Homo sapiens: one gene and its partners. The protein of the gene in region 2 interacts with the protein of the main gene of each other region in a biochemical or structural test. Each region holds a gene or a part of one and is shown on either strand. Other genes may lie near its edges. The genes, in order: CDH1, FARP2, CDK6 and PDZK1.

Region 1 (7,881 bases), on a different chromosome or scaffold from region 2:
TTCAAAAAAAAAATGTAAAGACAACAGCGTGATTGCTAAAGATTCATGTGGTCAAAGACTGGAAGAATGACACAGTGGAGGTGTTCCCTCAGGGGAATTGTGGGTGATTTCTCTTAAAAAAAAAATGCCTCTTATTGTGATACCCAATCAAGTAAAATCATGAGAGAGGAGAAAGTGGTTTGATATAAAGGAAGCACTTGGGATTCAGTGAAACCAGAAGAGAAACTAGCCCCTTCCCTTGCTCCCTGGACAACAGTCAAGTGGAACAAAGCAAACTCTAGATTGTCACAACGATAAGGCCTAGAAGTACATTGGGTGTATGCATTTTCATCCTGAGTCAGAACTACCATGCTTTTTTTAAAAAAAGATCATTATTCCTGGCCAGGCGTGCTGGCTCATGCCTGTAATCCCAGCACTTTGGGAGATTGAGGCAGGTGGGTCACCTGAGGTCAGGAGATCCAGACCAGCCTGGCCAACATGGTGAAACCCCTTCTCTGCTAAAACTACAAAAAATTAGCTGGGCATGGTGGTGGCACCTGTAATCCCAGCTACTCAGGAGGCTGAGGCAGGAGAATCACTTGAACCTGGGAGCCAGAGGTGGCAGTGAGCCGAGATCACGCCATTACACTCCAGCCTGGGCAACAAGAGTAAAACTCCATCTCAAAAAAAAAAAAAAAAAAAAAAATCATTATTCCTTGGGGGAAACAGTACCTGTATCAAGATGTTTTGGTCCAGGCACAGTCTCTCAGGCCTGCAATCCCAGCACTTTGAGAGGCTGAGACAGAAGGATCCTTTGAGCCCAAGAGTTCAACACCAGCATGGGCAACATGGAGAGACTCCTGTCTCTAAAAAAAAATTTATTTTTTATTTATTTTTTGAGACGGAGTCTTGCTCTGTCACCCAGGTTGGAGTGCGGTGGCACTATCTCAGCTCACTGCAACCTCTGCCTCCTGGGTTTAAGCAATTCTCCTGCCTCAGCCTCCTGAGTAGCTAGGATTACAGGCACACGCCACCATGCCCGGCTAATTTTTATATTTTTATTTAGTAGAGATGGGGTTTCACCATGTTGGCCAGGCTGGTCTCGAACTCCTGACCTTGTGATCCGCCCACCTCGGCCTCCCAAAGTGCTGGGATTACAGGCGTTAGCCACTGCGCCCAGCCTAAAAAAAAGTTAAAATTATCCAGGTGTGGTGGCACATGCCCATGATAACCAGCTACTAGGGAGGCTGAGATGGGAAGGATCACTTGAGCCCAGAGGATGGAGGCTGCAGTAAGCTATGATTGTGCCACTGCACTCCAGCTTGGGCAACAGAGCAAGACCCTGTCTTTAAAAAAAAAAAAAAAAAAAAAAAAAAAAGCTTTTATATCTGTAAACAAAAGCCACAGCCCAGTAACCAAGAGAGGGCTGCTCTTCAGTCATCCCAGAGATGGTGCTTAATGGGGCCTGGGAGTCAGATCCCAGTTCAGATATCTGCTCTGCTGACCCTGAGCAAGTGGACGTCACTCTCTTAGCCTCGGTTTGCTCAACTGTAAAACGGGAATACTCCTGCCAGGCCTTCCCACCCACCAGGTTTTTGCAGTCTGAAATGAGAGACTGTCTCTACAGTGCTGAGGGCAATAAGAGAAATACGAAGGCTTCTAGTAAGTGCCCTCAACCTCCTCTTCTTTATAACATAGTCAACAACCAGGCAGGGTTACCCCCTCCACCACAGTGTTCAGTCGTAAACGTTTGGATCCCCAAATCTGCGTAAATTCCAAGGGGTGTCGTTTGAGCCAAGGAGGGAGCTTGCCCATTGCAACCCAGGGGTGTGGGAGTGCAATTTCTCGGCCCCTTTCCAACCCCTCCCTACTCCGCCCAGGGACACCGGCAGCGCGCCCTCACCTCTGCCCAGGACGCGGCCTCTCTCCAGGTGGCGCCGGGGCACCGTGAACGTGTAGCTCTCGGCGTCAAAGCCAGGGTGGCAGGGCTCCGGCTCCTGGCAGAGCCAAGAGGAGACCTGGGGTGGGGGAAAGGTAGATGGAACCGGGTGACTCGGAGGGTTCCCTCCTGCTCACCGAAACCAACAGCGCCGCCCCTCCCTCGCTCCCGGCGTCGGGATTGGGGGAGGACCCCAGCCCGCAGCCCCGGGACGGGCGGGCAGCGACGTCACCCTCCCCCACCCCGAAACCTACGGCCGCCGAGCCCCCAGGAACTCCCGGGAGGGGGCCGCCGAGTCACCCCCTCAAGACCTAGCCCACCGTTCCCTTTCAGTCTCCTTTCTCATTTTATTGGAGATGTCTTTATTCTCCAGTACCCCACTTTCCTTAGACCGGGAATGCACCACTCCTCAGAGCGAGGGGCGCTCCCACCTCCTCCGACCTCACTTTCTTATCCCCGGGACCCTCACTCCTATTTACGACCTTTCTTGGCATGGCAGGTGCCTTTATTTCTACGGATGCCCCTCTCCTTCCCTCGAAGATCGTCCCCACGACTCCTGGCTCCCCCTCGACTTGCACCAGGGCACCCCTTCTCCACACCCCACCCCCTACACCCCGCTTCACGCCCCCACCGCCCGCGCGAGCCCACCCCGCGGACTCCGCGGCCAGACGCCCCCGCCTCGGTCTGCGCTGGAGGGGGCAGGAAAGCCGCGCTCGCCCCTCACCACCCACCCCCCACTCCCATCACTGGGGGGTCCGGAGCGCGCGAGGCTTCCAGGCCGCTCCGCTCCTCAGGACCCGAACTTTCTTGGAAGAAGGGAAGCGGTGACGACGGGAGAGGAAGGGGCGCAGGGCTGGGGCGCGGAGCTTGCGGCCCGAATGCGTCCCTCGCAAGTCAGGGGATCCGGGGTACCTGCAGCAGCAGCAGCAGCGCCGAGAGGCTGCGGCTCCAAGGGCCCATGGCTGGCCGGGGACGCCGAGCGAGGGCAGGCGCCGGGTGCGGTCGGGTCGGGCCGGGCTGGAGCGGGCTGGAGTCTGAACTGACTTCCGCAAGCTCACAGGTGCTTTGCAGTTCCGACGCCACTGAGAGGGGGTGCGTGGCTGCAGCCAGGTGAGCCCCGGAGGCACCGCCCCCCGTACCGCTGATTGGCTGAGGGTTCACCTGCCGGCCACAGCCAATCAGCAGCGCGGACCCCTCCCCAGGGCGGAGCTGACGGCCCGCCCACCCGGCCTCGCATAGACGCGGTGACCCTCTAGCCTGGAGTTGCTAGGGTCTAGGTGGGTTATGGGACCTGCACGGTTCTGATTCCACTGGGTTCGAATCCCAGCCCCGCCGGTGGCTCACTAAGACCTGGGATCAGAAAGGGCTTTTACACTTGGCTGAGTTCTTTTGTTTTTTGGGATTTTTTGTTTGTTCGTTTTGGAGATGGGGTCTCACTCTTTCACCCAAGCTGGAGTGCAGTGGTGCGATCACAGCTCACTGCAGCCTCGAACTCCTGGGCTCAAGCGGTCCTCTGGCCCCAGCCTCTCTAGTAGCTGGGAGTACAGGTGCACACCACCACGCCAGGCTAATTTTTTTTTCTTTTGCCTTTTTGTAGAGAGACAAGTCGGGGCGGACAGGGGCAGTGGGGGCGCTGTGTCTCCCTGTATTGCCCAGCCTGGTCTCGAACTCCTGGGCTGAAGCGATCCTCCTGCCTTGGCCTCCCAAAGTGCTAGGATTTCAGGTGTGAGCCATGAGCCACTGAGCTAGCAGCCTAATTTTTTGTTTGTTTGTTTTGTTTGTATTTTTTGAGACGGAGTCTCGCTCTGTCTTGCCCAGGCTGGAGTGCAGTGGCACGATCTCGGCTCACTGCAACCTCCGCCTGCCGGGTTCAAGAGACTCTCCTGTCTCAGCCTATTGAGTAGCTGGGACTACAGGCGTGTGCCACCACACCGGCTAATTTTGTATTTTTAGTACAGACGGGGTTTCACCATGTTGGCCAGGCTGGTCTGGAACTCCTGACCTCAGGTGATCCACCCTCTTCAGCCTCCTGAAGTGTTGGATTACAGGCGTGAGCCACTGCACTCTGCCTCGAGCGGCCTAATTTTTTAAAAAATTTTTCTAGAGAGGGGATCTCACTATGTTGCCGAGGCTGATCTCAAATTTCTGAACTCAGGCGATCCTCCTGCCTCAGCCCCTTTACTGAGTTCTCATTTTTTAATCTAGTCTTTTTTAACTGTAGAGCTTCATGGGTTAGTGAGTCAGCAAATTGATTCCCTAGGTCAGGACCACCTCCCAAAGCCTCAGTTTCTCCACCCTCCTAATGGGAATAATGATCAGAAATGTCTCCCTATGCTGTTGTGGGACTCCCATACAATTAAAATGACAAATGTTTCTTGAGCCATAAATGCTCTGTACAGAAGTGAGGGGTAAAAATAGTAACAATAGGGCCAGGCATGGTGGCTCACGCCTGTAATCCCAGCACTTTGGGAGGCCGAGGCGGGCAGATCACGAGGTCAGGAGATTGAGACCATCCTGGCTAACGCAGTGAAACCCCGTCTCTACTAAAAATACAAAAAATTAGCCAGGCGTGGTGGTGGGCGCCTGTAGTCCCAGCTACTCGGGAGGCTGAGGCAGGAGAATGGCATGAACCTGGGAGGTGGAGCTTGCAGTGAGCCGAGATCGCGCCACTGTACTCCAGCCTGGGCGACAGAGCAAGACTCTGTCTCAAAAAAAAAAAAAAAAAAAAAATAGTAACAATAGGTGCTGGACATTGAAGATTACTGTGCCAGTCTCTGTGCTAAGCATTTGACACTGACCAGCTCTTTTTTTTTTGAGACGGAGTCCTGCTCTGTCGCCCAGGCTGGAGTGCAATGGTGTGTTCTTGGCTCACTGCAACCTTCGCCTCTTGGGTTCAAGCGGTTCTCCTCTATCAGCCTCCTGAGTAGCTGGGATTACAGGCATGCGCCACCACGACTGGCTAATTTTTGTATTTTTAGTAGAGACAGGGTTTCATCATGTTGGCCAGGCTGGTCTTGAACTCCTGTCCTCAGATGATCCACCTGCCTCAGCCTCCCAAAGTGCTGGGATTACAGGCATGAGCCACCGTGCCCAGCCACTGACCAGCTCATTTAAGCTCATTTCAAAACAACCCAAGAGCTGTATTATTATTCCCATATGATAGATGGGCAACTGAAGCTTAGAGAGATTGAGGCCAATGAGAGGTGGCGCAGGACTGGAACCAACCTCTCTGATTCCAGGGCCTTTCTTCTAACAATCAGCTTCATCTCATGTGGTCCCAGTCTTCCAGCTGGAGCTGCAGTTTTCAGTCTGTTTTTTGATGTTGACCTGGAAGAGACCTTTAGAGTTCACCCAAACCTATGATTTGCAAATAACTTGTTCAATGTCACATAGGCAGGTCAATGTCAAAGCCAAAGACCAAAACCCAGGATCTTCTGACCCCCAGAGTGGGGCTTTTAATGCCACAGCCACACCATGGCCACCATCACCTTCTCCAGAGAATTCTGTCCCCAGTGAAATAATTTTAGGATCAAAAATAGAATAGATAGGGGCCAAAGGTCTCAGGTCCTGGGCCAGTGGCCCTCCAGCACCCGCCGTCCTCCATCAAAAGACAAAAACAGAATAGACAGGCAAATGTTAGGTTAGACAACTTCCCTGTCTGACTCCCTGTGGCCAGCCACGTCTGGGTGGCTTGTCTACCCCGACAAGGGCACCTCCTTTCCCTTTATCCTTCAAGCATGGTTAGAACTACACAGCATTAAGTGGAGTCAGCCACTCACTAGCCCTGTGACCTTGGGGAAGTCAGTGTTCTCCTTTGTATAAGTGAATTGGCATGAGCTAATACAAAAACAATCGCTAAGCAGAGTTCTTGGCTCATCATAGCAACTGCTCAATAAATATTTGGAGTAGGGGTTACTCTTTCAAAAGGCCCAGCCCCTATTTCGCTTCCTCCTGGGGAAAGCCATGTTTGGAATATTTCACCCAGAGCTAAAGGTGCCTCTGAGTCCATCAAGTAATTTCTCAAATGCAGACGATTTCTGGGCAGCCCAGCACCGCCCCCCCCAACAACCTGTCCCCTCAATTTTAATGAGTTTCCAATCAGGTCTTTTGGATGTCGTATTTTGGCTCCCTCTGCTCTTAACCCACCAGGAGGCTCAGAGGGAGAAGGCTCCGGTATTTCCTTTCCCACTAGGATCGTGCCTTGAACAAGATAATGGAAATACAGAAAGAGGCGTTTCCCCCATGGGGCTGTACTGTCTGCTTATTTTTTTCCTCTCAGTTATGTAAAAATACATATTTTATACCATCGCTGGGCCCTGGGAGCCTTTAGGGCTTTACTTTCTTCTACCCAGCAAGCCTTGGCCTCGTAACTCTGCAGCGACTCTCATCGACTCTTCCATTACACTCTGATAATTCAATAAAAAGGATTTTAGAAAACAATTAGGGGCAGCAAAGTCAGGTCAGGCCTGATGCATTCTTCAGACTTCTCGGCAAGTCCTTCTCCAAGCTCCAAAGACAGTAGATCAGGTGTCCAGGGTGAGGCGGGAACACAGAGGGGCTCCTTGTGGAAGACAGGTGCTGTGTGACTTTCGCAACACACTGAATTGCTTCTCTGTTTCCTATTTATTTATTTAGTGACAAGGTCTTGCTCTGTTGCCCCGGCTGGAGTGCAATGGCGCGATCTCGGCTCACTGCACTCTCTGCCTCCCAGGTTCAAGAGATTCTTGTGCCTCAGCCTCCTGAGTAGCTGTGATTACAGACACACGTCACCATGTCTGGCTAATTTTTGTATTTTAGTAGAGACGGGATTTCGCCATGTTGGCCAGGCTGGTCTCAAACTCCTGACCTCAAGTGATCCACCTACCTCAGCCTCCCAAAGTGCTGGGATTACAGGTGTGAGCCACTGTGCCTGCCCTCTGTTTTCTCTTGTATCAAACAGGGATACCTAAGCAGGCCTGGTGGCTCACAACTGTAATCGCAGCACTTTGGGAGGCTAGTTGGGAGGTGAGAAGATTACTTGAGCCCAGGAGTTTGAGACCAGTCTGGGCAACATGGTGAAACCCCATCTCCCCAACAAATATTATTTTGAATTAGCTGGACATGGCAGTGCATGCCTGTAGTCCCAGCTACTCTGGAGGCTGAGGTAGGAGGATCATTTGAGCACTGGAGCCACTTCACTCCAGCCTGGATTCACTTCTGGCTCTGCCATTAGTTGAGAAGCATAAGTCATTTTATCTCCACCATCTTGGTTTCCTCATCTGTAAAATGGGAATGTTGATAGCACTTAATTCATAAGGTTCTTGTAAACACTCTGCAAAGGTGAGTGATTAGCCCTCTTGGCCCAATACATTCCCTTTCCAGTTCTAGGAAAAATTGTGAGCTGCCTGGAGCCTCCCCTCCCCCAGGCTCTCCTTCCCCCACCCCCGCCACTAAAGCTCCTCAGGTTATCTCTTGCATCTACTGGAGAAAATTCTTTCATGCCGGCCAGCTCATCATTTCGAACCTCCCAGGGCCATTTGCACTTTAAAGAGGGCTCTAGAGAAAGACTTTTCTTCTTTCAAAGGAGTTGTAAATGCTGTCCAGGGCTTTTAACCTGGTGTCTGTGGATGGGCTCTGGTGGGGTCCCTGAATCCCCTGAGACTGTACACAAACCTGTCCGTGCAGGTGATAAGGCCCATTGCTTTCCTAACATCTCAACTGGGGAAAACCCAAACTCCAGGAGTTGAGCTTTCTCTGAGATCTTGCTGAGATCCAGCGCTAACAGTGGAATTTCAGGCATCACTGGGGAAAAGAAATGTTTGGCCAGAGGCCTTGCCCTTCAGATCACCGCAGATAGATAAGAGACCCTGTCACCTGGCAGATAACAGACCCCGCATGATGGGATCACAGACTCCAGGTTTCCTTATGGCAGAGGACAGACTTTCACTTCCTGGGTGTTTTGGCCACTGGCCTGCCTGGAGGCT
Region 2 (7,566 bases):
TACTTTTAGATCGATAAAATTTTATTTCTGTATACTTTCTAGTTTTGCAGCATTTCCAGTTTCCAGGAGCCTCATGAATGGCTTTTTGGTTTAGTTAACTTTGTGGTCATGTAAGCCCTGCCTTTTGCTCAGTTTATGACCTTTGTTAAGGAGAAAAGTAGAACTGTTAATAATTAACGCAGCAGACATTGCCTCACTCCCACTTAAGTGTGTTTTGTTTTCTTTTTTCTAGAAAACACTTTCCTGGATAAAAAAGAAAACATTCCAGATGCATGATCCAGCTGTGTGTTTTCAATCCTTGGGAGGGTGCCATCCACATTTTAACAGTACCTGTGCCTGAGAATTTAATTTTTAAAAGACTTTGATGTGTTTTTGTATGAAGTACTTTTAACGTATGTATTTCATTGCTGTGTCACACTCTGTGTTTTGTGAGGTGAATGTCTTCCTTTTCTTTCTCCCTAACCACTAATGTTAGAATTGATTTCCAAGAATCGGCATGTATACTTAATACTGAATTTCTTTGATTTAACTGACTTAACAACTGACTAACCATTGATGAGCACTCCTGATTTTTATCTAGAACATTCAGATTTACCATAATGTTCCTTAGTGGTAGAGGTGTGTGCCTAGTGATGTAGAAAGATACACTGACTTGGTGCAAGGCCATCTGCTTACCACATCACACCACTTGGAGATCTTTGCTTCCTTGCTTTTATGTTTGTACACAACACCTAAAACCAGTTTTGCTGCTATAATTCTATACTGTTGATTCGTCTGCGATTTTATCTGTTAACCAAATAAAACATAATAGAATTTCCTAATGAGATATATCTTTATACTTAAACAGCTTTTTTAGAGGTGAGTTTTAAAGAAGTCTCTTAATTCTGATGCTAGGTTGTTTTTAAAACCACTATGCAAAGAACTCACCACAAGCCACCTTTTGTAGTGTTCTCCACTAATACTGGTTATCCTGTGCTACAGAGAAAATCAAAGCAGTCATAAGCTCCAGTTTTCGTATTGCAAATAAGACTCTTACCTACAAAATGAGATTCAGTGAACTAATTTGGTTTTTACTCAACCAAATTAAAAATTTTTTTAAGGAAAATTAGCAGTTGGTCTATTCAGAATCAAACCTTTTTATATTTTATACTGCACTTTAGTGTATTTTCTGTCACTGTAGGTATAGAAGATCTGCCTCCCCTGTGGAAATTGGGGTCTGTTGGTGGGCGTGCCCCTGAAGCCTGGCTTGGGTTGAAAAGTGTTCCCGCCCTAAGGCCTTGGTGCCCTGAACCTCTGATGCCTACCGGGTTCTCCTGATTTGAGTTTCCTTTAAATACTCCCTTTTTGAGTAATTTTCTGATGGGAGGAAAGTAGCAGTCATCATCTTTTTGTGTGCAGGCTGTCTCATTTATTTTTAGCCATTGTCGTTTCATTCATTTTGTGTAATATAAACCGTGTGTCATGTCAAAGTGAAAGACATTTCAAATCTGTAGCATAGGCTAGTGGGCAGGTCCGCACAGTCGAAGCCACACCTGGTCTGTTTTCTGTGCACTGTAGCCTTAGTGTCACCTTTCTTCTTGTGTCTCCTTATGGTACACTCCAGCGGTTGCCTTTTTTATCATTTCTACTGAAGTTGGGAAATTCAACCCCAGAAATTGACAGATGAAAGGAGACAATGGTTGTGTAGGGAGATGGAGAAAATGCTTAATCTGAGGATGAGACAGGGTTTTTTCATTTTTGTGGGGGCTAGAAAAAACATAAAATGAGGCAGTTAAATAATAATAGTTAATGAAGGTGTGCTACAGAAAATAATCTGGTGTTCTTGCTAACTTTGCCCTTCACTGTTGCTTAATTGTGAACAGCCAAAAGCTATATGTTATGGCTTATTGTGTGAAGGTAACTAAGAAGTGGTGTTCCATGACTTCAGAGTACATCCATGCGGAGTCCATTATTTGAGTTTGACATTTAATAACTTTGCTGGAAAATCTGTAAAAAAGAAAAACAAGTTTGCTAGTGACTAAGCCCCGCATATGTGAGTGAAAGTACTTCAGGCACGCTGCCTCCTGGTAACAGCTATGCAGGGAGGGAGGACCCACACTGCTACACTTCTGATCCCCTTTGGTTTTACTACCCAAATCTAAATAGATACTTTTGATAATAGATAACTGCTCTTTTACTAAGACATAGTCTCTACCTATAGAAATGTATTTTGAAAACACTTATTTTACACAGCAATTTTGTATCCATTTAAACTAACCTTTTATCAATAAAGCACTATTGTTTAGATATTAAATGAGTATTTCTCTTGGTTATTTGCAAGGGAAAGTTGTGAGGTTTTCTGGGAAAATTCAAAGTCTTGACAACATCTTTGTATAAAATCAAGAAAAATTACTTGAATCAATAGTGTCAGTACTGGACAAGTTTGTACGTATTGGAGATCCAGCCCAAAAGAAAGCACAAAAGATTGGAAAGGAATTATTTACAGGTGATCAGAACATCTACTTAGAAAGTACAAGACATCTGGTGAAAATTAACACTAAGAAGTCAGTGATATCTATTTTCTAATTAGAAAATGTAGTGAGAAAAGAAATCGCATTGATAATAGCAACTACTAAATTACTGGAAATATAAGTGAATGATTGAAATATATCTAGGAAGAAATTTCTAACCTATAAATTTTCAAGAATAGGCTAAGGCGGCTCTGCCACTTGAGTAAAGGAAACTGGAAACCTGAATTGATCTGGGTGGCTGGACACCTACACTCCAAGGCCTCTAGCCTTCTTCCTGCCCACTGGACTGATCATCCCAGGACCACCTTGGGCCCCTTTTACCTTGCTATCAGTGTTTTCTGAGCTTCCTTATAGACAGACCCCTGGATACTGAAACTTGCTCTCTCTAGTTCCTCAGCTGACAGCTGCCACGCCTGCTGCCTTCCCTCCAGACTGCCAGCCTCAGGTCACCAGCACACACCCTGCATCCTACCAGGGGTCAGTACCACCCTCTGGCCAGGCTCTCACCTGCACTATCCCCACCCGGCCCTGCCCGTCTGCAGGCAGGGATCCTCTGTTCTGGGGTGTGTGCACCACTCTGGGCCTGGTGGTGTCATTGGGGGTTGGTTAAAGGAAAAGCCCCAGAGGTGGGTGGCACATGAGGGGAGCATCCCGCACAGCTGAGCCCAGTCTTGGTGTGCCTGGGTCTCAGACCCCATAGTTGTCTCAGGAGAAATGGAGGTTCCCCTGAGCCAGCATTTCTCCTGTCTGGGCTTCTGGGAAACGAAGGGTCAGGTTTCACTCTGGAATCCACAGCACCATAGGAGGAGTCTCTTAAGTGCCCGGGTGTTTCCTGAAGTTAATTATTCCCTCAACAGCCACATGGTGACAGTGGGTGACAGGGCCGGGCTAGGAGAGCACGATGGGTAGGGTCTTGAAGAACACATAGGAGTTCAATGAACTTCTCAAGAGAAGGGAAGTGTGCCACAGCAAGTCAGTCTTCCATTCTCGGGTGGGGGTCCCTAGGCCAGAGGAAGGCCGTCCTGGCCGCCACCACGGAGCAGCCTGTCTCAGCCTTAGCACAGCCTCGCGCGATCCTTCGATGATCCCCTTCGGTCCCTGTAGTCCCACGAGGGATGCAATGCGTTGGAGGAAGGAGGAGGCTGGCAGCCAGGGACTGAGCCAAAGGGTGCAAGGACAGCCGGCAAGGCCCGGGCCAAGACCTATCCCCGCCCAGCGAGCCAGGCCTCGCCCAGCACCTATCCGCGCCCAGCAAGCCTAGGCCTCGCCCAGCACCTATCCGCGCCCAGCAAGCCTAGGCCTCGCCCAGCACCTATCCGCGCCCAGCGAGCCTAGACCTCGCCCAAGACCTAGCCCCGCCCAGCGAGCCGACTCCCCGCCCAGGACCTAGCCCCGCCCAGCGAGCCGACTCCCCGCCCAGGACCTAGCCCCGCCCAGCGAGCCGACTCCCCGCCCAGGACCTAGCCCCGCCCAGCGAGCCGACTCCCCGCCCAGGACCTAGCCCCGCCCAGCGAGCCGACTCCCCGCCCAGGACCTAGCCCCGCCCAGCGAGCCGACTCCCCGCCCAGGACCTAGCCCCGCCCAGCGAGCCGACTCCCCGCCCAGGACCTAGCCCCGCCCAGCGAGCCGACTCCCCGCCCAGGACCTAGCCCCGCCCAGCGAGCCGACTCCCCGCCCAGGACCTAGCCCCGCCCAGCGAGCCGACTCCCCGCCCAGGACCTAGCCCCACCCAACGAGCCGACTCCCCGCCCAAGATCTAGCCCCGCCCAGCGAGCCTTGGCTTCGCCTAGGACATTGCCTCGCTCAGCAAGCCGACGCCCCGCCCAACGAGCCGAGCGCTGCACAGATTTATATCCTACGCAGCTGCCTGCCTGCTCCCGCCCCTTCTCCGTCCGTTCACCAATCAGAACTCGATCTTGCGCTTTCAGGCCGCGGGACGGGAAGGCTCCGCCCTGGCGCCCCGCAGGCCAATCGACTGCGCGTCCGCGTCGCGGGGGCGGGGTCAGGGCGGGGCGCGCTGCGCGGGGGCTGCCGGCGGGCAGTTGGGAGCAGGCGACGCCGACGCGAGTCTGGCGGCTGCTGCTTGCGACTGCGGAGGCCGGGCGAGGCCGGTGAGGACGCGGCGGGCGAGCGAGAGGCCGAGGGTGAGGACGTGAAGCGGCCTGGGCGCGTGGGGCAGGGGTGGGCCTCTCCGGGTGGGCGGCGAAGCCCGAGGCCCGAGGCGAGAGGCCCAGGCGGGGGGGGCGCTGAGGCCGCGGTCCACCAGAGATGGTCCCGCCCGGCCTCTGAAGGCCATCGTGAGGCGGCTGGAGCTCCTAGGCGGGTCCGGGTTAGAGGAGCGTCCGTCTGTAGGGAGCCTGCCGCGTGGGGGCAGGCGGGGCGGTGGGCCGGGGAGTGGCCCGCGTGGACTCCCGGGTTGAGGGGTGCCGCGTGGAGGAGGCCGGTGGGGCTGTAGACCGGGGAGTGTCCCGCGTGGACTCGCGGGTTGAGTTGTGCCCCGTGGAGGCCGGCAGGGCCGTGGGCCGGGGAGTGTCCCATCCCGGAAGGACACCCCAGAGTGGGCCATAGGGACCCGCAGGGTATGGGCCTGGAGGTGCCTGGTGGAGGCATTTTGAGCCGTTTGCCTTTTTAGCATTTCTTTAAATTGTATCTTAAAGGTGGGAATCAAGTGTTAGGTGTTAATATTTTTACTCCACTAAGGGCTAGAAATACTCATAAGCCAGTGGGTAGCCTTTGGGAAACCCATGAAAACTGGGGACCAGAATATGGCCCAGTACATTACACACCCGAATTACGGGCACCTTTTCCGTTTACGCTATGGCAGCAACCCCTGGCCTATCATGTGCCATTAATGGATGTGAAAAGCAGAAATTAGAACAAGGCATCATTGAAGGAAAGATTGTCAATACATAGTGTTAAAAAGGGATGGGCAAATTTAAAACCCAAGGCCAAATCTTTAAAGGGTGGTTTTTCTCTCTGGGTTTTTGTTTTTGTTTTGTTTCCGTGGGATATTTTTGTCTGGGCCACTGTGTAAATGTTTGATAACCCTGAGGTGGCAGTGGGTTAGCGTGTTGGTCTTGTGTAGACTGCCTTATAACAGGCGACACAGATTTTCTCAGTACCAGAGAGATGGGAGAGGACATTTGAGGTAGGGAAGCATGGAGTAACCTTTACTTGTAGGCCAAATATAATTTAAATTTTCTACATCTGCTTGTTGAAAGTTTTGTTTTGTTTTGTTTTTTGAGGTCCTTAAAGGTTTAGGAAGCACTTCATGCTCGTTATTTATTCAGTTTTCCAAAACTCTTCAGAGACATGACCAAGTTGCACAGCCCCGTTTTAAAGTAGAGGAAAGGGAGGTTGAGAGAGGTGGAATGACCAGTTTAGGGTCACACCTAGGGTACTTGCAAATACCATCTGTACTTCTCATGTGCCCTATCCTTGTTGCAGATTCTCATTAGGTGGTTCACTGTTAACAAACTAAATGCTGATGATGCAGTTTCCTGGACTGCAGACGTTTGCTGGCTTATTTACCTATAGGACTATCAGTCGTTAGTAAATTTCCAGGTTCCTTGTATACTAATTCCTTTCCCAAAGAGGAAGTTGATATAAGGTGTATTCATTTCTCTCTGCCTCAGGTTCCTTATTCAAAAAATGAGTTTAAAATTTACTTGGCCAGGCACAGTGGCTGTAATCCCAGCACTTTGGGAGGCCGAGGCAGGCAGATTGCATGAGCTCAGGGGTTCCAGACCAGCCTGCTCAACAGGGCGAAACCCCATCTCTACTAAAAATACAAAAATTAGCTGGGCTGGTGGCGCACGCCTGTAATCATAGCTACTTGAGAGGCTGAGGCACGAGAATCACTTGAACCCAGGAGGTGGAGGTTGCATTGAGCCAAGATTGTGCCACTGCACTTCATCCTGGGCGACAGAGCGAGACTCTGTCTCAAAAAAATAAAAAAATAAATAAAAAAAGCTGTGTTAACAAGATGCCTGGCACAAGGTAAGTGCTTAATAAATGTTAGCCATTATTATTATCAGGTGGACAAATAATCCGAGTAGAAAGTAGAACAAGCTAACCCTGGATATTTACAAAAAACAGTAGAGAAAAAATTAGGCAATAATTAAGCAAATTTATCCTGTTTAGAGGGAATGGTATGAACTGGATTGCCAAAGCAAAGATCAATGCATGGGCAATTCCATGTGAGCTCATTTAAATCCATTTGGCCCAAAGAATTCAGTTGCTTCCTTCCTTTCCAAACACCCCTGCTTCTAGTCACATCAATACCTCTTCTATATTCGGACAGTAACAGATTTTTCTTACTGCTGCTTGTCCTTTCAGTTTTGTTCTTATTTTTCCTTCACCCACTTTCATATCAGCTTGCCAGCTTCCCCTTTACTCAGTGCGTCATGAGCTTCATAAACACAGCATAGTGCTAGATATACAGGCAAAACCCCATTGTAGTGTTGGATACTGAGCTGAGGTAATTCCGGTCATGTTCTCTGAGATCAGAATATAGAGTCCTTTGACCATAGCGTATTTGTCAATGCCACAGGGAGTTGAAAAGTTGAGGATCCTACAAAGCAATATGATAAAGCCCAGTCTTTGGTGATTTTCTGGGGAGCGTTTAGTTGACAGTGATTCTATAAATTGGTCTAATCTTTTTGGAAAGTAGCAGTATGTGGCAAAGATTTTGATTTTGGAATCACACTTTTCAAAACAATCTGATAAACTTTGTTGTGTCAGTAGGGTAGAGTACTCCATAGCAAGTAAACATGCTTCCACAAGCTGAATCCCATCCTCCCATCCAAGGAAAATTTGAACCATTTTGATCCATGGAAATATGCTTTAAAATGTGACTTAACTGAAAAGTTGAAATGGTGTGTACACAGCAATCATAGTGTTGTAAAAATACATGAGGAGGTGAACAGGATCAGGAGGGTAGTTAGAGTGTTGTAAGTGGTTTTATTTTAAGAGTCATGAATTGTTTTCCCCTAAACTGGTGTTTTAGCTTATTGCCATTTTAAAATTCAAAAACAAAAAGGCCCTATAATGTTGT
Region 3 (7,022 bases), on a different chromosome or scaffold from region 2:
GTGCATACAAGACACTATATTGAGCAGCAAGAACCCAATACCCCATAAAGACACCAGAATGTCATGTTGGAGGCAGCCTGGCAAAGTTAGGCAAAAGACATTTAACTCTTTGATTAGTCCTCAATTTATCAGATGAGGACAAGATAAGTCATTCAGCCCGATGTTGCATACCACCTACAGCTACAACTATGGTCCAGGCTACTGTCCTAAATTAATTTCTACCAAAGGCCAACATATGAAGTATATTCTACTTATGAAACTCGTGTTTCTTAACAAGAAACTTGTTTTCACTAGAAAAATAAAATAATAAAGATCATAATATAAAGGGTTATACCTTAAGATGCCTGGAAAGCTTACCTGTCTAGAACAACTAATTTCTCAATTAATCCAAAAGATGCCTTGTCTTGAATACTGGCATAGAGCATACTGGCTCAGAAATTAAGGAGAAGTAGTACTTCAGGATCTGTCAGGTGATCATGAACTTAAAATGAAAATAAATACTGTTAACTGCTCCCTCAAAGTTCTATATGTAAGAACATTTTGAAGTTTTCAGAAAGAAGCTAATAATACAAGCTTTTATAATTGTTCAAATAGAAATATCATTTATTATGTAAATATATATATATTAACATAGATAGTAAAAGTTGTCTAGTAATTCACCCATTCTTTCATTTAGAGGATGTTAATTATCTTAGAAGAATATGACTCCTCTTCTAAAACTTGCTTTAATAACAAAACACAAGGGGCTAAAGAAAGTCTTCAAATAAGTAAAATTACAATAATGCTACATTCCTCTATCTCTACAGCTTTCTGTTCAGGACAGGAAGTTCAATTCATATATGTAATTTGTTCCTGAGGCAGTAGAAAGGATTATGATAAAAACAATACACAGACTGTGAACTTGGGTTTGCGTCAACTTTTCACTCCTAACTTGAGATTGAGCTACAGCATGTATTAATAGCTTTCATGATTTTGAACACAGATATGTGCTGCCAATAAATCAATCAGGACTAGGGTGCAAAATGGACTCAGCCATTTTAAGGTATATGGAGTAAGTCCTTCAGCTTAATATTACCAGGTAGCTATGAGGAATATTGACACACATCAAATGAGACCATTAAATGTATAACATAGCTCCTTCTCTATTCCTGTTATGACTCAACTGCTTATATCTGCAAGTCAGCATTTGTCAATTTATTCACTGAAAAATATTTCCTGAGTGCCTATCAAAATAAACAAGGCACTGTGTGTTAGGGCTGAATAAGATGAGCATCTGCCTTCGAGGAACTTATGGCCTGATAAATAAAATTCCCAAATAACTAAAAACAAGACAGAAAACAGTATTATAGGCTGGGCACAGTGGCTTATGCCTGTAATCCCAGCACTTTGGGAGGCTGAGGAGGACGGATTACTTGAGGTCAGGAGTTCAAAACCAGCCTGGCCAACATGGCAAAACCCTGCCTCTACTAAAAATACAAAAATTAGCCTGGGGTGGCCTGTAATCCCAGCTACTTGGGAGGCTGAGACACGAGAATCGCTTGAACTCGGAGGGCAGAGGTTGCAGTGAGCTGAGATAGGGCCACTGCCCTCCAGCCTGGGCAACAGAGTGAAACTCTGTCTCAAAAACAAAAACAAACAAAAAAACCCAAAATATTACTCTGGAAACAGAGAGGAAAAAGAAATTAATTTCTGAAGGGGATACTAGAAAGGGTACCTCTGGAGTCAGGCTTTGCAAGGTAAGTAAAATACTAGCATTTCTCATAGTTTTAAGATGTCAGTTTTGAATCAGTTAACTTGTAATTCCTTTAACATTCCACAAATTAAGTTGATTCTCAGTTCCTGTATGACATAACCCACTAAAAAATGTGTATTTCCAGGAAGAGGAGTGTAGTCTTTTTCTCTTCAAGAGACACTAAAAATACATACCAGTTCAGTCTAAAAAACTATGATTCCAAGTTTTTATGTCACCATGTGTATATAAATCGACGCATTACTATATTAAATGGGTATTTCCTTTAAATAGAAAAATACAAAAGAGTGGGGAAATTTTAAAATGCAGTACCCTGTAGGAACATACCCTTTATTATTACCATTAAATTCCAACCGTCACTCTTTCCAATAAAGTCTGATTTTTGTTTTAGAATCCTTCTCAGCTGCTAACATGTTTTACTTATGTCACTATAGGAAATATAAAGCATGCAGTATAAACTAGATACTGAAAAATTGTGTATTTATGACTGCCTTTCTCCTTTTCCTCTATGAAATAATTTGTCTACATTTTCCTGTTTGAACATATCAACTTTCAGCAAGAATGGAATGTTAATTGATGTTACGCACAAGCTCAAATTTAATAAGCAAAAAAAAAAAAAAAAAATCAAACACAAACCAACTGGGTTTCCTGTTTTTATTTATGGTTATTAGTGCCCATTTGGGGGGATTAAAATAAAAGCGTCCATCTCAGTTACAGCTTATCCTTCCTTCAATTAACGTACCCAAGGAGACAAGTTCCTTCCATCTACTCCCCTGATGACTCTCTGGATCACAAAGCCTATTCAAGCTTCTCCCCAGGGCCCCAAAACAACATGCGCAACAACTTCCTAGGGAAACTCAAAGCCTACCTCACCCTTCCCACTGGGGAAATACACAGACTCAGCCCTTTCTGGTGTGATTACATAAGAATACAAGGGCTTGCTTGACCGTGCTCAAAGCTGAGGCCTATCTTTTAAACATCAACTCGTGCCATTTCTCCTCTAAAGCAATGGTGTATGCTGGGCAAAGAGGAAATGAGTAGGATTTATCTTCTAACAATGGCAACATTTTCCAAGGAATCCTCTGCATCAAAAGTTCTGATGCCCTAGGAAAAGTCTATAATGTTTGGAAAGTAACTGGTCTTACGTGTCTAGGTGGTAGCACCCCTATTTTGACTGGGGGCAGGGGGTGGGGAACACTTTTATAAATTGGATTTTTTCCTAAGGCAAGTTATCTGTCTCAGAGAATTTCTAACTCCTCTCTTGAATTTCTACTTATCAGCTGTAGTATTACTGAAATTTAGGGAAACAATTTTTTGCTGTGCAGAATGACCAAAGATGTTGCCAATCATTACTTAACAACAGGGCCATGCTGTCCCTGATGTGAGAACCACTTTGAGGCTAAAGATGGACAATACGGATTATTTTTTTTTATTTCTTTGAATATACAAAGATATTTTCTTTTTTAAAATTCTTTTTCTTAAGACTTAATTTGCTATATATTATTTATTTAATTTACTGTACGTAAGGCATGAATTTACTGTATGCAAAACAGGTCTTTCAAAGAGAAGGGTATTAATACCTATTTCCAGGCTGCTCTTTTTGTATTTGGGGTGCAGAATTTCACAAAAATCCATCTGAGAAATAATGAACTATATGGAGAAATAGAAGCTAACCAATGTCAATAGCTATTATGGTTTTGCAGCTGAATGGCAAAAAGAAACAGGGTATCATAACTGTTATTTTTTGCCAAAACAGGGCCGTTGGGTTCGCTCTTTCTATTCAGGGTTATATGAGCCTTCACCTGGCATGGCGGTGCTCTACGTTCATGCATCATCCAAGTTCACTGTGAATTTGATTTCTTCTTTACAGCTGGCACCATAGCTTCAGATGAGTGCATTAACAAACCTGTGTAGGCACTCTGTTTCTCAAAACCATGATGCTGCAGACAGGTCAACGTTGCTCGTGCTCTTTCTTCCCTGACCTTGAGCTGTGTGTTCCCTAGGCATTGTACATACAGCTCTGAAAACAGTGGTTATGGCAGAAAGCATTTGGAAACTTGTAACTGATTCCTGTCCAGTGGCTAAGATGCAACAGGCTATTTCTGCAATGGATCCTGTCCACAACAAGCCCAGGCTGGATGTGACTGTAGCTGTAAGCAGAATGCTTTCTGCCTACCCACTGCCATATAAAAATGGGCAAAGACATTCTATCCACCAACTAGTCATGGGCAGTACTAACATTAGAGACATGGAAGAGGGACAGACTGTCATTCAAAATAGGAAAAATAAGTTTAATAAAAGGACAGCACTCTCTCACTCACCACTGAGGTTAGAGCCATCTGGAAACTATAGATGCGGGCAAGGCCGAAGTCAGCGAGTTTTATTTGTCCGCTGCTGGTCACCAGAATGTTCTGTGGTTTTAGATCGCGATGCACTACTCGGTGTGAATGAAGAAAGTCCAGACCTCGGAGAAGCTGAAACATCATATCCTAATAAAATTAAAAAAAGAAAATCAGTAAACACTCAAAACGGAAGTTGAGCATTTGCTATGCTGGACGCCGAATCCTTAGCATTTTGTGGCTGCTTGGCATGCGGCAGGCATTTGACAGGTATTGGCTGAATGAGTGAATTGTCTCCCTTCCTGCCTTTCCACTCCCACACTTTCAAGAACACTGCAAAAAATTTCACTCTCAACCTGTATTTTATTAATGAAAGGACAATTTTAAAATAGTTTTTGATGGAATAGGAAACATTCTGGAAGGATATCTGCCAAACTGGTTTCAGTGGCTCATGCTGGGGAGAGGAAGGAGGAGGTCGTGAGGGGACACTTTTTGCTTCTCTATTGTTTAATGTGCCATTTCAACAATTAAAATCCAGTGAATAATAATATTGTTATTAATGGTGATTATTATTTTATAGCACCTAGTACTAAACACTCACTATATATCAAGCACTATTCTAAGCATTGTCCACTTAGTAAATAATTTAATCCACACCACAACATTTAGGTAAATAATATCATTACACCATTTTACAGGTCAAGAAACTGATACACAGATGTAGGCTACTAATTAGCCCAAAGTCATACTAGCAAGAGAGTGCTGATTAACTGTTTGTTTTTTTTTAAACAGGATCTTGCTCTGTTGCCCAGGCTGGAGTGCAGTGCTGTGATCACGGCTCCCTGCAGACTTGACTTCCTTGGCTCAAGAGATCCTCCTGCCTCAGCCTCCCAAGTAGCTGGGACCACAGGTGCATGCCACCATGCTAGGCTAATGTTTTTAGTTTTTGCAGAGATGCGATCTCACTATGTTGCCCAGGCTGGTCTCAAACTCTTGGGCTCAAGCTATTCTCCTGCCTCAGCCTCCCAAAGTGCTGGGATTACAGGTGTGAGCCACCATGCCCAGTCTTAATCAACTGTTTTAGAATATTAACAGAGTCTTGATTTAAACTAGGGTCTGGAAAACCTCGATTCAAATCTCCAATGTATTCCTTTATCAAATCAATGAACAAATGAATACGTAAAATAAGGCAAGCCATTTAACCTCTCTAAGGCTTAGTTTCCCTGTCTGTAAAATGGGACAGTAACAAAGCCCACTTTATCATAGGATCATTGTAAAGCACTTAGCACCATAGTTAATATTCAGTAAATGGCAGCGCTTATTACTGTTATTATTAACCAGTATGGAGGAGCGGATCATTCAGGATATAAACCAATATCAGATCTTTTTCTAATTTTAGGACCAATACAAATATACACAAGATTTAATACTCAGGGACAGTGTCTGAAGGTAGGAACTAAGACATTGGCCATGATGTCATAATCCTCTGAAATGTGTGGAAATTAAGAGTGACCTACTCCCCTGACCCAAATATTATAAGAATGGTGTATACAAGGGAGGATGGAGCTGTTTTGTTAATACAAGGGTTAGAAAAATGACTGGGTACCACCATGGATTTCAGAGCTGGAAGGGGCTGTGAGGATACACTTATCATTGGCCGGACCACTGAATCCTCTCATCGAGAACAGTATATTTGGTTACTGGTTTATGGTTTTGGTTCTTCCTTTAGAGTTCGGAGTTCTGTCTTTATATTTTAGCTTGTTCAAAACCAAAGCCTTAGTTTTTCCTTTTATAAAGTGGAGAAAGTAGCGATTACTTTTCCTACTATTAAGGGGGCTAAATGAAGTAATGTATGCCAAGTGCTTGTACAGTTTCTGGCATATGGTAAGCACTTGACAAACAGTAATTATTAGGATGATTATTGCCAAGATAAGTGTCCTGATTTCTGGGGGAGACTGATTCACAAACAACTAAAAGAAAACATGACCACTGCTACAAGGTCGGTGTGAACAAAGCACTTAGAGGGGGTATGCAGTGATCTAGAATCATTTCTGAGATCCCCCTGAGTGAATATTCTGAACTGGCAGGGGTGACCTTCTAAGCTTCCCAAAACCCTGGAGAAGACTGCATTGGGGAGGAAAAGCCCTTCAAGACTTGAGAAGCACTGCAGGTCCAATAAGTTGTAATGAATAAACAGGAGTGTGAAAATGTAGCACAAAATGTTCAAGGAACATTTTGGCAAATAAGTCTTTATTGGAAACACATGCACACAACTTGTAAGCACTGAATTTTAAAAAGCATGACTAACCTAAAGTAATGTCCTGTTGGCTCATCATCTTTAGCCTCTATACAGTTAAGTGTCACTCATTTAAAACAGTATAAAGAATAAATCTGTTTGGTTCATGCTGCAGTGTTCAAACAACTTTAGCAGCCAATTAGCAGTATACAAATTTAAAAACATGCACATCGTTTTTATTTGTGTTATAACACACACTATGTTTTTCTTAATTATAAAATTGCTAAGATGTATAGATGCATGCTTAATGCAGAAACTAATAAAATGTTTTAAGAATCCAGAGAAGAAGAAAAATCACTAAAAAATTCCACTACTTGGAGAACAGAGAAAACTTCACTGTTAATATAACTTTTTTTGTGTCTTTTTAGTCTGTCTTTTAAAAATTACGTATTTTATTATATTTGGATGTATAAGTATATTTAAGTAAAAGTGGTTATTATTCTGTACACATTATTTTGTAGCTCTTTTAAAAACATGTAACAATTCATTATCAACATTTTGCCACTAATAAAATTCTGCAATATGACTTTTTTTATACAATGAGATTTTTAATGGCTGCATGGTTTTTCACCCTGGGACATGCCATAATTATTATTATTCAGTTTTAGTTGTGTTACTTTGGCACTTATACTACAGG
Region 4 (7,022 bases), on a different chromosome or scaffold from region 2:
TGCATTATTGTGTCATACGCCCTTTCTTTGCATTTGTAGAATCAGAAAGCATCTTTACCATTCTCTCCTCTTCAGTTTGTACTATTATATTAGCCATCGTATGCTGTGGAGTCATCTCACCAATGTAGGCTAACAAGGACAGGCACAGGAGGGAGGGAAGAACCCGAATGCATTTAGGTGGTGAGATTTAGGTGCTACTTATAGAAATGCTGTCAATTCTTCAAAGATATTAATAGAGCAGTTCCCCCTTAACCATGGGGGATACATTCCAAGACCCCCAGTGGAGGCCTGAAACTTTAAGATAGTATACCGAACCCTATATGTTTTTTCCTGTGCTTACATACCTACAATAGAGTTTAACTTATAAATTAGGCACAGTAAGAGATTAACAATAACTGAGCTAATCTTAGCAACCTCAGCATACAGTATTTTTTCTTTCCTTATTAAATCGAGAACTTTTCACTTAATAGAAGCACTTTACAGCCTTTTTTTTTTTTTTTTTAACAGATGGAGTCTCGCTCTGTCACCTAGGCTGGAACGCAGGGCCGCAATCTTGGCTCACAGCAACCTCTGCCTCCCCGGTTCAAGCGATTCTCCTGCCTCAGCCTCTCGAGTAGCTGGGACTACAGGCGCCTGCCACCGCGCCTGGCTAATTTTTGTATTTTTAGTAGAGATGGGGTTTCGCCATGTTGGCCAGGCTTGTCTCGAACTCCTGACCTCAGGTAATCCACTCGCCTCGCACTCTCAAAGCGCTAGGATTACAGATATGAGCCACTGTGCCCGGCCACTTTACAGCTTCTCTTTGTCATATCTGAACTGCCAGCATCACTATCCTTGCATTTTTGGCTTTTTTTTTTTTTTTTTTTGAGACGGAGTCTTGCTTTATCGCCCAGCCTGGAGTGCAGTGGCGCAATCTGAGCTCACTGCAACCTCCGCCTCCCGGGTTCACACCATTCTCCTGCCTCAGCCTCCTGAGTAGCTGGGACTACAGGCGCCCACCACCACACCCGGCTAATTTTTTGTATTTTTAGTAGAGACAGGGTTTCACCGTGTTAGCCAGGATGGTCTCGATCTCCTGACCTCATGATCTGCCCGCCTCGGCCTCCCAAAGTGCTGGGATTACAGGCGTGAGCCACTGCGCCCGGCCTGAGCTATTATTTTTTATTGATACATAACATTTGTACATATTTATAGGGTGTGTGTCATATTTTGATACCAAGAGCATATAATGAACAAATCAGGGTGTAATATTTAGGACATCCATCCTTGAACATTTATCATTTCTTTGTGTTGAGAATATTTCAAATCTTCTTACAGCTATTTTGAAATGTACAATACATTGTTGTTAACTACAGTCACCCCACTGTGCTATCAAACATTAGAACTTATTCCTTCTCTCTGTGGGTTTGTACCCATTAACCTAGCTCTCTTCATCCCCACCCTACCCCACACACATACCCTTCCCAGCTGCTGGTATCTCTCATTCTACTCTCTACCTCCATGAGATTCACCTTTTTTAGCTCCCACATATGAGAATATGTGATATTTTTCTTTCTGTGCTGGGCCATTATTAAGCAAAATAAGGATTATTTGAACACAGTACTTTAATACCGTGACAGTTGACCTGGTAACTGAGTAGTAAGTAGTAAGACTAACAGGCAGGTAAGCACATGCCACGTGGAGATGCTAGACAAACAGAGGATTCATGTCCAAGACGGGGCAGGACAGCACAAGATTTCATTACACTACTCATAATGGTTCACAATGCAAAAATTATGTATGGAATTTTCCATTTAATATTTTCAGACCACAGTTGCCTGCAGGTAAGGTAACTGAAACTATGGAAAGCCAAACAGGATAAGGGGGGACTCTTGTATGTCAACCTAGGCAAGGGATCGCTTGCTAATGACTACATAAATCACTTGTAAGGAATGACAATAACTTAAACTCTGCTTCCTTAAACACTCAGCATTTCTCCTGCTACCTTGTTATATATTTGTCATGAAGAGACCATTTTCCTCATAAAGCTAACCTAAACCATTCACCATGTGCATTAGCACATGAGCCAGATGAGTAGAATCTGAATTATGATTTTCTTTTTTTTACCACTTTACTGATAATAGGCTTCTAAGACGTGCCAAGCTTCCTTTGACTATACACACCACTGTGTTTAATAACTGACAGACCTGAGAAATACCCCTTATCGTGAGTTTACATCTCTTGGTACAGGTTAAATAAGCCTTAGAAACTATTTTAAATTTACCACTGGTCTGCTGCTGTATCACTTGCCAAATCATGACCTACCACCAGTGCTTCTCCAGCCCCAGAAAGAACATAGGCAGAGGCAGTGTTCAAGAAGGAATTGACCAGCTAACACAGCTCCTCTGGTTCCAACCAATACCCCAGAGCCACGGTCAACTGAACACAGGTTAGTCTGCACCTCTGAAATTCTAGAAATAGAACTTCTGGTGCTTCCTGATGGTCAGGGTTTCTCAAATCACTATGTACCTCTTAGCCAGAGCTCAAAGATGCGCCTCAGAACAGGTGGGGCTGAGCCGCAGCTGAGGGTACTATCAAAATGTTACAGGAGGGTGGAAATTTTTGCGGTATTCTCAGCAAAGGTAACAGTGCCTGGCACATCAGCAGGTGCTCAAGAATTTGTTGAATAAATGAATGACTATCTGGGCACTCAGATAAAAAAAAGATACCAATCTTACTCAAAAATAGCTATTATGAAGAATCTCATTTTTCTTGCCTTTTATTCCTTATTCTGCCCTTCATTTTCACCCTAAGAGGGCTAGAAGCATCAACCCTCTGGCCCCCTGACCTCAAAGAGTCCTCAAGTGCCAGCCTGACAAACACTCAGGGACAGGAGTACCCAGTGCCCCCCACCCCCACTGCTGTCCAGTGTCCCTCCCCCATTGCACAACTGTGCAAGGCAAGGGAAAGGGCAGGGAGGGAGTGAGAGACGGAGGGAGGCAAGCTGTTGCAAGCTATCTATAGCAACTGAAAAGTCAGTCAAAGAAGAAAAGTCATTAACCAGTAGCATCTTTGTTCTGGAAGCCTGTTGTCTGTGCCCTGCCCCTGCCTCCCCCTGCTCCCCAAAAAATTCTCACCTTGGACAGTTTTCAGAGAGAAGCCATAGCTGCCTCCTTCCTTCACGAGATAGCAGAGCCGGGGCTGGGTCCAAGTTTGCACACCTCCATTCATCACAGGGGAAAGTATATTATCACTCAAACCTTGCTCCTTCTGACTTTGACCCAACTCTTTCAAGTCCACCCGTGTTTTCACTGCTTTCTCATAGGAATCCCCATCCAGAACTAGTAAAGTCACTGAATTCCCACTCTTTCTGACCAGATCCACAACCTAGGAGGGAAGAAGAAAAAGGTAACTTTAATAACCCTCTGCCAACTGCCAGAGGGAAATGCTGACCATCTGGCTCAATATCTGGCCCTGGAGATGCTGCTAGTTGACCCTTGACACCCAAGTAGAAGCAGGTAGTTCCTCAGCCACCTCCATCCCTGCCCTCCCGAGATCCAGGTGCAGATTAGGCTGAGCTTCTGGCACTGCTGGAATATAGAGTGTGGTTCAACCCCAGCCCAGAGGGTTCTTACAAGACTGGTCCTTTCTAGAGAGGAGCGCTGCCCTAGATTGTAACCATTCCTCCCGTGTGCATGGGGACAGCACAGTGTAAGGAAAAGACCATGCTTTTGGAGTCAGGCAGAATAAGGTAAGGCCAGACTCTCCCATATATCCTCAGCAGGAACATGTTAGCAAGCTAAGATATCTGTACTTAGCTTCCTAATCTGTGAAATTGTAACATATACCTTATGAGGTCATGATGAGGACTTAACAAGATAATGAATATAAAATTGCTGGCCGAGCGTGGTGGCTCATGCCTGTAATCACTGCACTTTGGGAGGCCGAAGCGGGCGGATCACGAGGTCAGGAGATCGAGACCATCCTGGCTAACACGGTGAAACCCCATCTCTACTAAAAATACAAAAAAAAAAAAAAAGCTGGGTGTGGTGGCGGGTGCCTATAGTCCCAGCTACTTGGGAGGCTGAGGCAGGAGAATGGCATGAACCCGGGAGGTAGAGCTTGCAGTGAACCGAGATCGCACCACTGCACTCTAGCCTGGGTGAAAGAGCGAAACTCCATCTCAAAAAAAAAAAAAAAAAAAAAAATACCTAGCACCATTTTTGGTATATAGTGAACATGCAATTCATGTTAGACCTAACGCTATTCAAATCCAAGAGTAATGTGTACAGTTCTTGGTTCCTCATAGGGGACTTGATTGGCCAACACAAGGTACAGCAATAAAGGTGTCCTGCCTTGCCAGTGGCAGCCAGGAAAGAACCAAACTCTACCAACCCCCAAAATTATAATCAGCAGAGAAGATGTGGGGGCTGAAGAGATCCTGGAAGAAAAGCCCCAAATGTCTCATTCACCTGCATATGTTCTTCTTTGTCCACAAAGACACCATTGATCCTAAGAACTCTGTCTCCATCTTGAAGGCCAGCCTTCTCTGCTGGGCTACACTTCTCAACCACCCGGACCAGGTGGCCCTCGGTGTCCTTCTCAATTCGCAGGAAGAAGCCATAGTTTTGCCCTTCTTGCTTGGACAGTTTACATTCTCGGGGGTTGAAGGTGGAGGTCATTTCTGTGATGAAAAAAATAAATTAATAAAACCATGGAAAAGAGAATCTAATTGGAGTGAGAACCCCATCCTCCATCTCCTATAATTCTGTTCTTCCAATCACCAAATCTAGACTGCTTGGGTAGTAATGCTGGGGGCACAGGAGGACACCTTCCAGAACTTGCTAATGATTTCCAAATCTGTTTCCCCAAGGACAACCTTTTTACTAGAGTTTCAGACCCACGTATTTTTTACTGAGTACTGGACACAGATGCTTCCATTTCAGTATCTCCAACCAAACTCCTCTTTGTCCTCTGACCTAAAGAAATTAAGTCCAAATACATGACCCAAAAAATTTATGACAAGCCCACTCTCATTCAAACATTTGAAGAGCTTTTCAAGTTCAAGGAATCGAGGTTAAATCTGTAGACAAGATGGACCCATACCTTGCCTCTTCTATTGGGGAACATTATTACATTCCTATAACCACACGTGGTGAGTGTCATGCTGGGGAAGAATGCAGTGATAAGGGGGAAAATAACAAAGGGTCTTGGGAATAGGGAGCGGGATGGGAAGAACAAAGAACATTTCCTGAAGGAATGACACTTCCAAGAACTGAAGGATTAGTAGAAGCTTGGTGAGGTAGGACAGGACAAGGAAGAGCTTAAACCATTAAAAAAGGCAGGCACAGTGGCTCACCCCTGTATTCCCAGCACTTTGGGAGGCCGAGGCGGGCAGATCACAAGGTCAGGAGTTTGAGACCAGCCTGGCCAATATGGTGAAACCCCAGCTCTACTAAAATTACAAAAATTAGCCAGGCGTGGTGGCAGCCACCTGTTGTCCCAGCTATTCGGGAGGCTGAGGCAGGATAATTGCTTTAACCTGGGAGGTGGAGATTGCAGTGAGCCGAGATCACACTGCTGCACTCCAGCCTGGGCAATAGAGTGAGACTCTGCCTCAAAAAAAAAGGACACCAGGCCTTAGAGCTGGTCCAATATGTTGGAGATGCACTAGAAAAGGCTGTTCTGGCCCCTGAAGTCTCTAGCCACAGCAGAAAAGAGATGCTCGATAGAAAAGGGATTCCAGTGGCTAGGTTGGGGCTCTCCCTCCCAGACGCTTTGTCACCCAGGCTGCAGTGCAGTGGCGCAATCGCAGCTCACTGCAGCCTCGAATTCCTGGGCTTAGGCGATCCTCCCACCTCAGCCTCCTGAATAGCTGGAGCTACAGGCACATATCACTATGCCCTGCTAACTAATTTTTTTAGAGACAGTGTCTTGCTTTGTTGCCCAGGCTGGTCTCAAACTCCTGGGCTCAAGTGATCTTCATGCTTCAGGCTCCCAAAGTGCTGGAATTACAGAATGAGCCCCCATGCCTGGCCTGAAGCAGCTTCTATTTCCATTCATCCTGCCCCTCCTGTTGCCCCATTGCAGGGGCAAGGTCCTGAGCCATAGGAGGAAGACAGGACAAGTGTAAAACCGACAGCTAGGGCTCCGGCACACAGTTATTATTAAGGGTAAGACTTCTGCCAGTGCCCCGACACCTGCTGGCTGAAAGCTTTTTCTTTTATAGGAGAATAAGAACAGGGGCCAGAACAGCAAGAGGCTGATACAGAAGGCAGAAGGCTCACAACAGAGCACTGGAGTCTGCTCTTCACACCACCTGCAAGGCAAGCCCTCAAGTTCCTCTCATCACAGTTCCCTACCTACAAATCAGAATAAACCACCTATCCCTTCCCTCCTGGAGGGACAAGAACGGATGACCACACAGGATATGGGGGAGGGTGAAGAATAGGCCACAAAGTGCTCCAGGCACCCTAGAAGCCATGGCATGGTGATTGAAGATAGCCATCCCTGACCTTCATGCCCACAGAGACGTACAGTACAAATCAGACAGAGAGCCCCCAGCTGCCCAATACCAGGCCTCTCCTGCAGTCTCCGCAAAGTCTGAAGCCCCACGCCACCAGTGGCACGAGTGACTAAGTAGCGAAGAAAGAAGCAAACAAATAGACTCCCCATCGAGCATTGAGGCAAGAAAACAGCAAAGCCACTCACCAGTGGTCAACACCAGCACCTTGGGAGAGCTAGGCAGCTCTGCCTTATCAAAAGCCATGACCAGCTGCCAGGAAAACACCACTCTGGGATGAAAGGAGAAAATATGGCATCACCAGAGTTGAGTCACATCCAGGCACCTGTTTGTGGCCCATTCCAGCTCCCTCACCTTTCACTCCTCTTTCTGCTGATCCCAACCTGCGAGCATCAGTTCAGTTTCAGCTTGAGTTCACATCTATGTCCAAGCTCACCTGTAGATCCCTACACCTTTCCATTTCATAGGGCCAAAAGACCCCAAAAGAAAAAAAATCAGAAAAGAAAGACGAGGTCTCAAT

The links.
Region 1: the proteins of FARP2 (region 2) and CDH1 form a complex in vitro, tested with the Homo sapiens proteins (one study listed by BioGRID).
Region 3: the proteins of FARP2 (region 2) and CDK6 form a complex in vitro, tested with the Homo sapiens proteins (one study listed by BioGRID).
Region 4: the proteins of FARP2 (region 2) and PDZK1 form a complex in vitro, tested with the Homo sapiens proteins (one study listed by BioGRID).

The regions. Positions count from the first base shown.
Region 1 is NC_000016.10:68,732,413-68,740,293, reverse strand, and holds the start of CDH1 (cadherin-1 isoform 1 preproprotein), read right to left. Parts: upstream 3,003-7,881; 5' UTR 2,879-3,002; coding exon 2,831-2,878; intron 1,998-2,830; coding exon 1,883-1,997; intron 1-1,882.
Region 2 is NC_000002.12:241,351,735-241,359,300, forward strand, and holds the start of FARP2 (FERM, ARHGEF and pleckstrin domain-containing protein 2), read left to right. Parts: upstream 1-4,550; 5' UTR 4,551-4,654; intron 4,655-7,566. UniProt on the Homo sapiens protein: Functions as a guanine nucleotide exchange factor that activates RAC1. May have relatively low activity. Plays a role in the response to class 3 semaphorins and remodeling of the actin cytoskeleton.
Region 3 is NC_000007.14:92,721,555-92,728,576, forward strand, and holds part of CDK6 (cyclin-dependent kinase 6), read right to left. Parts: intron 4,240-7,022; coding exon 4,072-4,239; intron 1-4,071. UniProt on the Homo sapiens protein: Serine/threonine-protein kinase involved in the control of the cell cycle and differentiation; promotes G1/S transition. Phosphorylates pRB/RB1 and NPM1.
Region 4 is NC_000001.11:145,683,361-145,690,382, forward strand, and holds part of PDZK1 (Na(+)/H(+) exchange regulatory cofactor NHE-RF3), read right to left. Parts: exon of another isoform or gene 6,749-7,022; coding exon of another isoform or gene 6,691-6,748; intron 4,664-6,690; coding exon of another isoform or gene 4,662-4,663; coding exon 4,452-4,661; intron 3,367-4,451; coding exon 3,117-3,366; intron 1-3,116. UniProt on the Homo sapiens protein: A scaffold protein that connects plasma membrane proteins and regulatory components, regulating their surface expression in epithelial cells apical domains.